2 linked regions of the Homo sapiens genome follow. The protein of the gene in region 2 interacts with the protein of the main gene of each other region in a biochemical or structural test. Each region holds a gene or a part of one and is shown on either strand. Other genes may lie near its edges.

Region 1 (4,771 bases), on a different chromosome or scaffold from region 2:
TGAAGTAATTTACACACATAAAAGCTACAGAACTAGATAGAGTGGAAAGGCTATTACTAGGTGACTCCAAAAGTGGCTTCAGTGATGACAAAACACGGACACAGAACATGCGTACTTAGTAAAATTATGTTTTGATGGAAAAGAGTAAAAAATGAATATAAATTACATTACTCAATATCTAAGTAGTACTGTATTAATAATTTAAATATTAGGACTGGGCATTTAACTATTTAAAATCATTAAAAAATGAATTTAAAAAATAAAATAATTAAAATTATTTTATAATTTTTTAATAATTAAAAATTATTAAAAATCATCATTAAAAAATAAATAAATAAATGTAAAAGTTGGCCAAGAAACACGTCTGGGGATCGATCTTCTTAAGAGGTGTGACAGGCTGGCTGATGGCCCCTGATACACCCACATCCTCACTCCCAAGCTTTTGGATGGCTCCTCCCATCCACGTGACCACGTGAAGGCTCTAGAGATGGGGAGAGTGTGGGGTGCGCCTGTGTGAGCCTGGGGTCAGAGCCAGAGGGGACGGCCACATGAGGAAGGATGCGGAGACTGCAGGGATTCAAGGATGGGTCTCGAGCCCAGGCAGACGGGCAGGCGGTCACCTCCAGAAGCCGGAAAGGTGAAGGAAGCAGACTTAAAGTCACCAGAGGAACCAGCTCTGCCACACCTGCCATCAGCCAGGTCACACTGACTGCAGACACGAGGCCCCCGAAAACGCAGGAGAATGAATGTGTGTTGTCTTAAGCCCCCCAGTTTGCAGTAATTTCTTTCAGCAACCCCAGGAAACAAATACAAGGGGGAATCACTTTGTCACGGGTGAGGGGAGAGGGAAAGCAGGACATGCGTGAAACGGTCTCACTAAAGCACGCTCAGAAAAGCATCTGTCACACAACAAAGGTGCTGCTGTTCCCGGCAAGTGCCAGCTATCACTGTGAACAGCCCCAGGACAGCAGGTCATGAAGCCTTGATGGCTTCCTCGGGGAACAGAACACCTCTCGGCTTTCTCTTCCAAACAGGAATAGATGCTGCCTCAATGAAAGACATGACTTCCCAGTTTATTCGCACCATCCGCCTCACACTGTGTGACATAATGATGGACAATGTCTTCTATGCAGTCCACCCAATTTTTCTACTAGACTCTTACTGTCATGGGCCTCTGCTTATTAAAAAGAAATGGTTTGTAACTCATGTAAGTAATATCTTATTATCTATAATCACGTTTCTTTGTTTTTATTTTTTAGAGACAGGGTCTCACTCCATTGCCCAGACTGGAGTGCAGTGGCACAGTCATTGCTCGGTGCAGCCTCAAACTCACTCCTGGGCTCAAGCCATACCAAGCACACCCCCATACTCGGCTAACTATTTTTTTTTTTTTGGAGAAAACTGTATTGAGATATTTTAAGTCACGTATCTAATATAAAACCAGTTTGCATTGTTTCAGCTTGTCTTCCTTGGAACCTGTGGTTGCCCTTCACCTCCTTCTGGCAATTTAAATTGCTCTGATTTCGGCAGAATATTCCCCGGACATCAGGACCATCTCCACATTCATCCCAGTCTTTGAGACAGCTCCCGGAGATCAGCTTCCTGGTCAAGCACAAGAATCTCAGCAGCACCGTGATCTTCCTCTCTCTCCTGGCCAGGTAAGACCCCGACTTTCAGGTGGTGGTTCCTCTTGCTGAGGCTGCTCATCACTGGGCTCAAGCACAGGCCCAGTTAGCTCAGGAGGCTGCACATACCGTCTTGGTCTAAGCCTACATGCTGATCTTCCTTGCCAACTCATATTTCAAACGGCTGCTTCTCAGTAGTGGGTAAAGAGTCCAGAACGCAGGAACGCAACCCTCACACCCTCACAGGTCCACAGTGTTCACCACGTGGGCAAAGGGGCCAAGGAGAAGACACCCAGTGAACCTTGGCTAATGTTTTAATTTTTCTGTAGACGAGGTCTCACTATGTTGCCCAGACTAGTCTCAAACTTCTGACCTCAAGCAATCCTCCCACCTTGGCCTCCCAAAATAATCACATAAGTTCAGCTTATAGTTTAATTTTTTTTAAAACTGTATCAATTAATAGTAAAGCTAGCAGAACAGACAGTGAAATTTAGAAGACCATGGGGTACTGGATTCCAGCTGAACTTCCATTACACCATCGGGGCTACCAGTAAGAACGCCTGCTCCCAAGCCCCTGCACCTCCCAGGGACTCTGACTTAGTAAGTCTGGGGCAAGGCCAGGAAGCTCCAACTTCCCCCTACACACCTTCCAGCTAACTCTGAATCACCTTGACTGGAGATCATTTAACCCAGCCTCTTCACTGTGTGGAAAAGGGAACAAGGTCCAGCCAGAAGTAATTCATCCAAGCCCTGAGGCACAGATGGGATGTGACACGAAGGTCCCCACTCGCCGCACAGCACTGCCACCTCCCATCAGGAGTCACCGACCACGTCACACAGGCTGAGTGTCCCTTAGAAGAGATTTTTGGGACCAGAAGGGCTGTGGATTTTTTCTGATTCGGAACATCTGTATATACGTAATGAGATATGTTTGGATAGGACCCAGGTCTGAACAGGAAATTCATTTATGTTTCATATACACCTTATACACACAGCCTGAGGGTAATTTTGTGCGGTACTTTTGATAATTTTGTGCATGAAACAAGGTTTGTGTACACTGACCCATGAGAAAGCAAAGGTGTCACTAGCTCAGCTATGCCTGAGGTGCCACATCGGTGTCAGAGGGTTTCCGATTCTGGAGCATCTGGATAAGGGATGCTCAACCCGCACTGTCACTCCTTCACTCATTCATCATTAAAAACTCATGGTGTAAAGAGGACAATAAAACAAAACAAAGAAAAAAAACTCAGGGTGATCTAGAAATAAATATTGCTGCCATGACACTTTTCTATTCCCTTCTAAAGTTAAAACCTCCTATAAAAGGTCCTGTTCTGATAAACTCCTCCACTCATGCCGGGCAGCACCCAAGACCTGCAGGTACAGAGATGGGTCCTAGGCCTGAGCTACGATGCAGCAGGCCCCGAGCGAGGCAGGGCTGGAAAGACCAAGCCAGCACCCGTCCGCACTGCCCGTGCACACAGTGTGAGGCGAGAGAGACGCCGTCCTCCGAAGGCAGAGAGAGTCTGGGGGCACCGAGAAGAAGAGAGCAAGGCACAAGAACAGCACAACATCAGCAATCACGGCCTCCAGGGTGACCCCACGGGCTGCAATGGCAGCCGCCACGGCCAGGACTTGCTGTGCAGCGCATGTCATCCTAAACACCATCATCGCTCTGAGGAAGGCTCTGTTACAATTCTCGCGTGCAGATGAGGGAGTGGGGGCACAGAGAAGCTAAGTAACTTGTCTACCAGCACACAGCCAATTAACGGCAAAGGTGGATTTGAACCCAGGCTATTCTTGGCTTACCCACACTTACGTGGATGCACAGAGGAAGGGCCTGAGACAGCAAGACACCACGCCACCTTCTCCACCTGGGACCTGCCCCCGCAGGCGCCTGCCCACCTCACACCCTCCCATAGTCATCATGTCCCAGCAGCCTCCCCCCACCACCACCTCACAGTGCCCACAGCTGCCGAACACCCACCTGGCACCCCCCTCCCACCTCATCAGGGACACACACACCAGACGATCTGATACCCGCCCCATGCAGACCCGCACTGGCCATCCCTGCATCCAGCCACCTCCCATCATTCACCTGAGAGGCCCTCCAAGTCCCTGGCCACTCTTCCCAGACCTTCCCTGGACCCAGAGCAGCATGGACCTGCCCGCCCTGGACACAGCAGGACACGGTGCCAAAGGGAGTGAGCTGGCAGATTCTGGAATCACCAAGGCCACTTCCAGGCCATTTTACTGAGCCACCAGTCAATACCTCTCCACACTTCCCTTCTTGGGGTGCAGCGTGGACTGGAGACAGCCCTTGCCTTGGCCTTCCAGGCCCCAGCTCCTCTCCCGCCCGGTTCCCCTCAGAGGACACCTGCCATTTCCCGGGTCCCAGCTCCTCCCCGACACGGTTCCCCTCAGAGGACACCTGCCATTTCCCGGGTCCCAGCTCCTCCCCCACACGGTTCCCCTCAGCGGACACCTGCCATTCCCGGGTCCCAGCTCCTCCTCAACACAGTTCCCCTCAGCAGACACCTGCCATTCCCAGGCCCCAGCTCCTCTCCTGCTCAGCTCTCCTCAGAGGACACCTGCCATTTCCCGGGTCCCAGCTCCTCCCCCACACGGTTCCCCTCAGAGGACACCTGCCATTTCCCGGGTCCCAGCTCCTCCCCCACACGGTTCCCCTCAGCGGACACCTGCCATTCCCGGGTCCCAGCTCCTCCCCTGCACGGTTCCCCTCAGCGGACACCTGCCATTCCAGGGTCCCAGCTCCTCCCCTGCACGGTTCCCCTCAGCGGACACCTGCCATTCCCGGATCCCAGCTCCTCTCCCACCCAGTTCTCAGCAGACACCTGCCATTCCCAAGTCCCAGCTCCTCCTCAACACGGTTCCCCTCAGCAGACACCTGCCATTCCCGAGTCCCAGCTCCTCTCCTGCTCAGCTCTCCTCAGAGGACACCTGCCATTCCCAGGTCCCAGCTCCTCCCCTGCACGGTTCCCCTCAGCGGACACCTGCCATTCCAGGGTCCCAGCTCCTCCCCCACACGGTTCCCCTCAGCGGACACCTGCCATTCCCAGGTCCCAGCTCCTCCTCAACACAGTTCCCCTCAGCAGACACCTGCCATTCCCAGGCCCCAGCTCCTCTCC
Region 2 (5,239 bases):
AGCCTGGGAGTGGTGTTTCACATCTGTAATCCCAGCACTTTGGGAAGCCAAGGCAGGCAGATCACCTGAGGTTAGGAGTTCAAGCCCAGCCTAGCCAACATGGTGAAACCCCACTCCTACTAAAAATACAAGATTAGTTGGGCATAGTGGATGCGCCTGTCATCCCAGCTACTCAGGAGACTGAGGCAGGAAAATCACTTGAACCTGGGAGGCGGAGGTTGCAGTGAGCCGAGATCACACCATTGCACTCCAGCCTGGGCAAAAAGAGTGAAATTCTGTCTCAAAAAACCAAACCAAAACAAAAAAAATTGCAGAAACCGGCCAGGTGCTGTGGCTCACATCTGTAATCCCAGCACTTGGGGAGGCCGAGGTGAGTGGTTCACTTGTGGCCAGCGGTTCGAGACCAGCCTGGCCAACGTTATGAAACCCCGTCTCTACTAAAAAATACAAAAATTAGCTGGACGTGGTGACACCTGCCTGTAATCCCAGCTACTTGGGAGACTGAGGTAGAATTGCTTGAACCTGGGAGGCAGAGGTTACGGTGAGCGGAGATTGCATCACTGCACTCCAGCCTGGGTGACAGAGCAAGACTCCGTCACAAAACAAAACAAAACAAATAAACAAAACTGCAGAAACCCCTGGCGGAAAAAGGCTTGGAAGGCTATCCTCCAAAGAGGGCACACTACCCATCCCAGATCTTCAAGGGATTGATATAAGGCAGTTCTCAAATTGTCGTCCTGGGACCAGGAGCATCGCATGAGAACTTGTTAGTGACAACGTTGAACTTTACCTGAGAACCAGAGAAACAAAATGAAGAAATACCCCCAACCTTTTGTGTTCTGGGAAACTCCTTCTTTTCTGACACAGAGCAGGGATAGGGATGCTCCTCTTGTTTTCCTATGACAAGGCCAGACGCAGACCCTCCACATTCCCATTCTTTCTTCACAAACGATCAGCTGAACTGCTTGCTAACCAAACTTTGGTTAAGTGTCTCTCCTTCCTCCAGGTGCGTGAACTTTGGCCAGCATACAACCACTCCTGAGAAAACGCTGGTCTCAGGTGGAAACATTCTCTGATCCACAGCACATTCAACTCCCACCCTTTTCATGCCACTTTCACATACCCTATTCTTTCTACTTGGCTACTCCTCCCTATAAAACAACTTCCCCCTTGTACCTAACTCTAGAGACCCTTAAAGATCTTAAGGTCAGAGGTTCTCATATGGCAACAGTCCTTCCTCCCTAAAACGAAACAGTATCTTTCTCCCCTTTGCAATAATCCTTTCCAGTGAAGTCTCTCCTTCCTCAAGCATGGCTTGTTTTTTATTTGGCATTAGAAATACAAATTCTCGGGCCCCACTCCATACTTTCTGAATCAGAAACTGGGGGGGGGGGGGGCGGGGGGTGGAGGGCGATGTACCCAATAATGCATTTCTCACAAGGTCTCCAGGCACAGTGTGGGAAGCACTGATTTGAGGCCATCCTGCTAAGAATCTGATGAGTGCATTCAACACTTTAATTCTCTCCCGCTGGCGTTTGACAGTTTAGGTGCAAGCTGTTTCTGAGGCTTACGGTGGAAAAGTTCTTAGCGTCCCCACAGACTACTTCCCGTAAAGTCACTACCCAAGGGCACACAAGGCCATGGGGCGCCATCTTCCCTCCCACCGCGTGGGGCCGAGGAAGCCCAAACCCGCACCTACTTACATCTCCGTCCATCGGCCTCTGGTCGTCACAGTCCCTGGTGGGGCTAATGTCCTGGCGCATGACCCAGATGGGCTCTTTGGGCTCGTCGGGGGTGTAAGGCGAACGGATGGTCCTGGTTTTCACCTCCTCGATGGCCTCCTTGATGTCCTTGATGGCCAGCGAGATGGCATCGCGCTTCTCCTTGCTGTACCGCTGCCCCGCCTCGCCGCCGCCCGCGGGGCCCACCGCCCGCTGCTGCCCCGCCGGCGCCTGCAGCCCGGGGCTGTCGGGGCGACCCCCGGCCGGGGTAGGGGGACGCTCCAGGTCCTGCTCGGCCTCAGGCATGTCCTCGGCTGCCTTGTCGAGGCTCTGCGAGCTCATGCTCTGCTTCACCTCGGCCACTATCTGGTCGATGTCCTCCTCCTGCTCGTAGCTGTCCATGCGCGGGTAGGGCGCGAACTCGGCCTCCTTCTCGGGGCTGTCGGACTCGCCGTCGGAGCGCTCGTCGTAATGGTGCAGCCGCGCGCCCAGGGCCTCCTGGCGGTACGCGGCCGCCTCGTCGCGCTCCTGCTCGTAGAGCCGCAGGCCGTCGCGTGCGTCCAGCTCGGGCGCGTCCCCTATCTCCTCGTACACGTGCTCCTGGAGGCCGCCGTAGTCGGCATAGGGCTCGGAGTAGGGCTCGTCCTCACCGCGGTGGAAGAGCCGGTGCGTGTAGACGTAGCCTGAGTAGGCCGCATTCATGGCTTCCTCGTGCTCCAGCGAGTGGAAGTGCAGGTGGTTGGGCAGCGCGCGGCGGTGCGTGGCCTCGGCGTGCTCGGCCTCTGCCTGCTCCGTGTACTCCTCGGCCTCGGGCCGGTACTGCACAGCATAGGCGCTCTCGTCCTCGGGGTCCTGCGCGCGCTCCGCATCGTAGCCGTCGCGGGCCGCGGCGATCACGTCGCCCTCGGCGGTGTCCGTGTGGTTGTGGAAGCCGCTCTCCGTGCTGGCTGAGCGCGCCAGGCATTCCCCGCGCTCCTCTTCCTCCTGGCCGAGCTGGGCGCGGAGGTCCTCGAGGGCTCGCCCGCGCTGGTGGCGGCCCACATAGTGCTGCTGCTGCGGCGGCTGCTGCTGTTCCTCTTCCACCTCGGGGTGCTCCAGGTCGGCCTCCACCGACTCGTTCACCTCCCCACCTGCCGCCTCGTCGGTCACCTCCACCTCCGCAGACCCCTCCAAGTGGTTCATGGTGGGAGTCGGAACGGCTAGGAGAGAAGCTGGGCCCGGCTCACTGCGCTCTCATTTTGCTCCACTGGGCTGGAAAAACAAGAAGGGGAGAGGCTGTCACGTGGTGCAAACAGTCGTTATGAGCTGAGTATTCAGATAACCATAAAAACAACTGCTATTGATTCCTTTTAGTTCTGGGTCAATTAAAAAAAGACTGCAAATTTAAGTTCAATCTGACAGCACATACATAGCACGCATCATAATTTGTAATTACATATCTACTTGTTTAATTGCTTATTGCCTTTCTCCGTTCCCACCCCTCACACTGAGCGCCTCAGGAACGTTTTGTTCTCCACCACGCATACGATTCAGGTCCCATTTCTGATGCATCTGAATAAAGAGTACTACTAAATTGAATGGGCCAACTGACACATTTTCCATCTGCTAACAGATAAATCTCTCCAAATTAAACTAGGATCCTACAACTTTAGAAATCACTCTTTACATCAATTTCAAAGAAACATAATCTTGAACACCTTTTGAAGCCATTCTGAGAGAGGCTATCAGCCAGCAGTGGGGTCCCGCCCCGGTTCTGTCATTACTGACTTTGTGACCTCAGGCAAGTGGCTTAATTTTCTGGACCTCCACGGTGTGACTGGACTCATTTCCTACATGCAGGATGTTAACAGCTATTATATAGGGTAAAAAAGACTCGGTGGTCAAGTAAGTTTGGAAAATGCTGAGTTACAGTTGACTTTTCATTGTTAATATCCAGAAGGAGGAAGATGCAGGACACAGGGTTTCCCTAACTTGTTTGACCAGGAGACACTTTTTCCTAGAGGCCAATGTTACATAGCAGCTGGTTTCTAATAGTTAGGCTTCCCTATTGCGCACTCAGCATCCAGGATACAACCAACCACGGAAGACAATATTAGGGGAAAATATCCAACACAATACAACAATAAAAAATAATGCAAGTAAAAATACAGTATAACAACAATTTATATAGCATTTATATTGTATTAGGTATTATGAGAAATCTAGAGATGATTTACAGTATATGGGAGGATGTGCATAGATCATATGCAAATACTATACCATTTTATAATGGATTTTTATATCCACTGGGGTCCTGAAACCAACCCCCATGGATACCAAGGGAGGACTATATTCACTTTCCCCATGTAACCTGAATCTAAAATTCTAAGATTTTATGAGTTGCCATTATAGCTAGAACTGGATAACAGGTGTAATTTTTTAAAAATATGGGTAGGTCTCTTTCTATTTTCAGAGAAACTTGTAGCTCGAGAGAAAGATTTGGTTTCAGTCTCTCTCAATTCTTCTTATCACAAAATAGCTTTATGGTATAATCTGTGCAGTATATAGAAATAGACACAAAGAATGTAAACAACCACAACAAAACAGGCAGGACCCCTATGATTTTGAGATCCCTATGGTAAATAGGCTCAACAGTATGTGTAAACTTGCTATTATGTTCTTTTGGAGAGCCTTTCTTACAAATGGACACAATGGATGGGAAGTGAACTCTTAAATATGATAACAGACAACCCCAGGAGGACCAGGGACATCTGATGGACTCTCTAGTAGTGAGATGCATTATATTCTACTCAACTCCCCATCACAACCACAGCAATTTCCTTCAAGCATTGATGACCATCCCAATAACAAAGGAGATCATTTTGGAGCTACCAAGTCCACATTCAAGCAGAAGTATCATGTCTTCCCCATTCTTTGATGGATCCACCCCTGACTGATTCTCGCTAGAAGAAAAGAATCACGGTTTACAAGAGATGAACAATCTTTATTGCTTCGCTACTTGACATAAGTCCCACTTGATACAAATTAGACCCAACCTCTTTTGAAAAATTTTGGGCTCCTCCCATTAACTCCTGAGAACAGCGACTGTGGACTAAGTATAAGAAAGTCTCCAAAAGCAAGTATGAATCTCCCTTCAAACCTTGATGGATGGTTAAGGCTGTAAACCAGCAGCAGGGTGGGGTGGGGAATGATTAGAAGCTGTTCCACCTCAGATCATGAGGCATTAGTTAGATTTTCATAAGAGTGCATGACCTAGATCCTTTGCATGTGCAGTTCACAATAGAGTTCATGCTCCAATACTGGTCCATGGCCCAGTGGTTGGGGACCCCTGCTCTAAACAGAAGCAGCAAGTGTTGCTGCTACGGGCCTCCAGTGGATTATAAGAAACACAAAACAAATATTCAATTCAATACAACACATGGACAAGAACATCATACCCAAGTTGCCTTCATAAGGACTTTCTCAAAAAGACAACAGATAAACCTTCATTAAATCTACATTGGGTTCTTAAGGTACAA

What was found. Proteins that work in one complex are often made in the same cells at the same time.
Region 1: the proteins of APBA1 (region 2) and RGS12 interact in a test that uses a peptide from one of them, tested with the Homo sapiens proteins (one large-scale study listed by IntAct).

What each region holds. Positions count from the first base shown.
Region 1 is NC_000004.12:3,309,539-3,314,309, reverse strand, and holds part of RGS12 (regulator of G-protein signaling 12), read right to left. Parts: intron 1-4,771. UniProt on the Homo sapiens protein: Regulates G protein-coupled receptor signaling cascades. Inhibits signal transduction by increasing the GTPase activity of G protein alpha subunits, thereby driving them into their inactive GDP-bound form.
Region 2 is NC_000009.12:69,514,308-69,519,546, forward strand, and holds part of APBA1 (amyloid-beta A4 precursor protein-binding family A member 1), read right to left. Parts: intron 2,973-5,239; 5' UTR 2,904-2,972; coding exon 1,704-2,903; intron 1-1,703. UniProt on the Homo sapiens protein: Putative function in synaptic vesicle exocytosis by binding to Munc18-1, an essential component of the synaptic vesicle exocytotic machinery. May modulate processing of the amyloid-beta precursor protein (APP) and hence formation of APP-beta.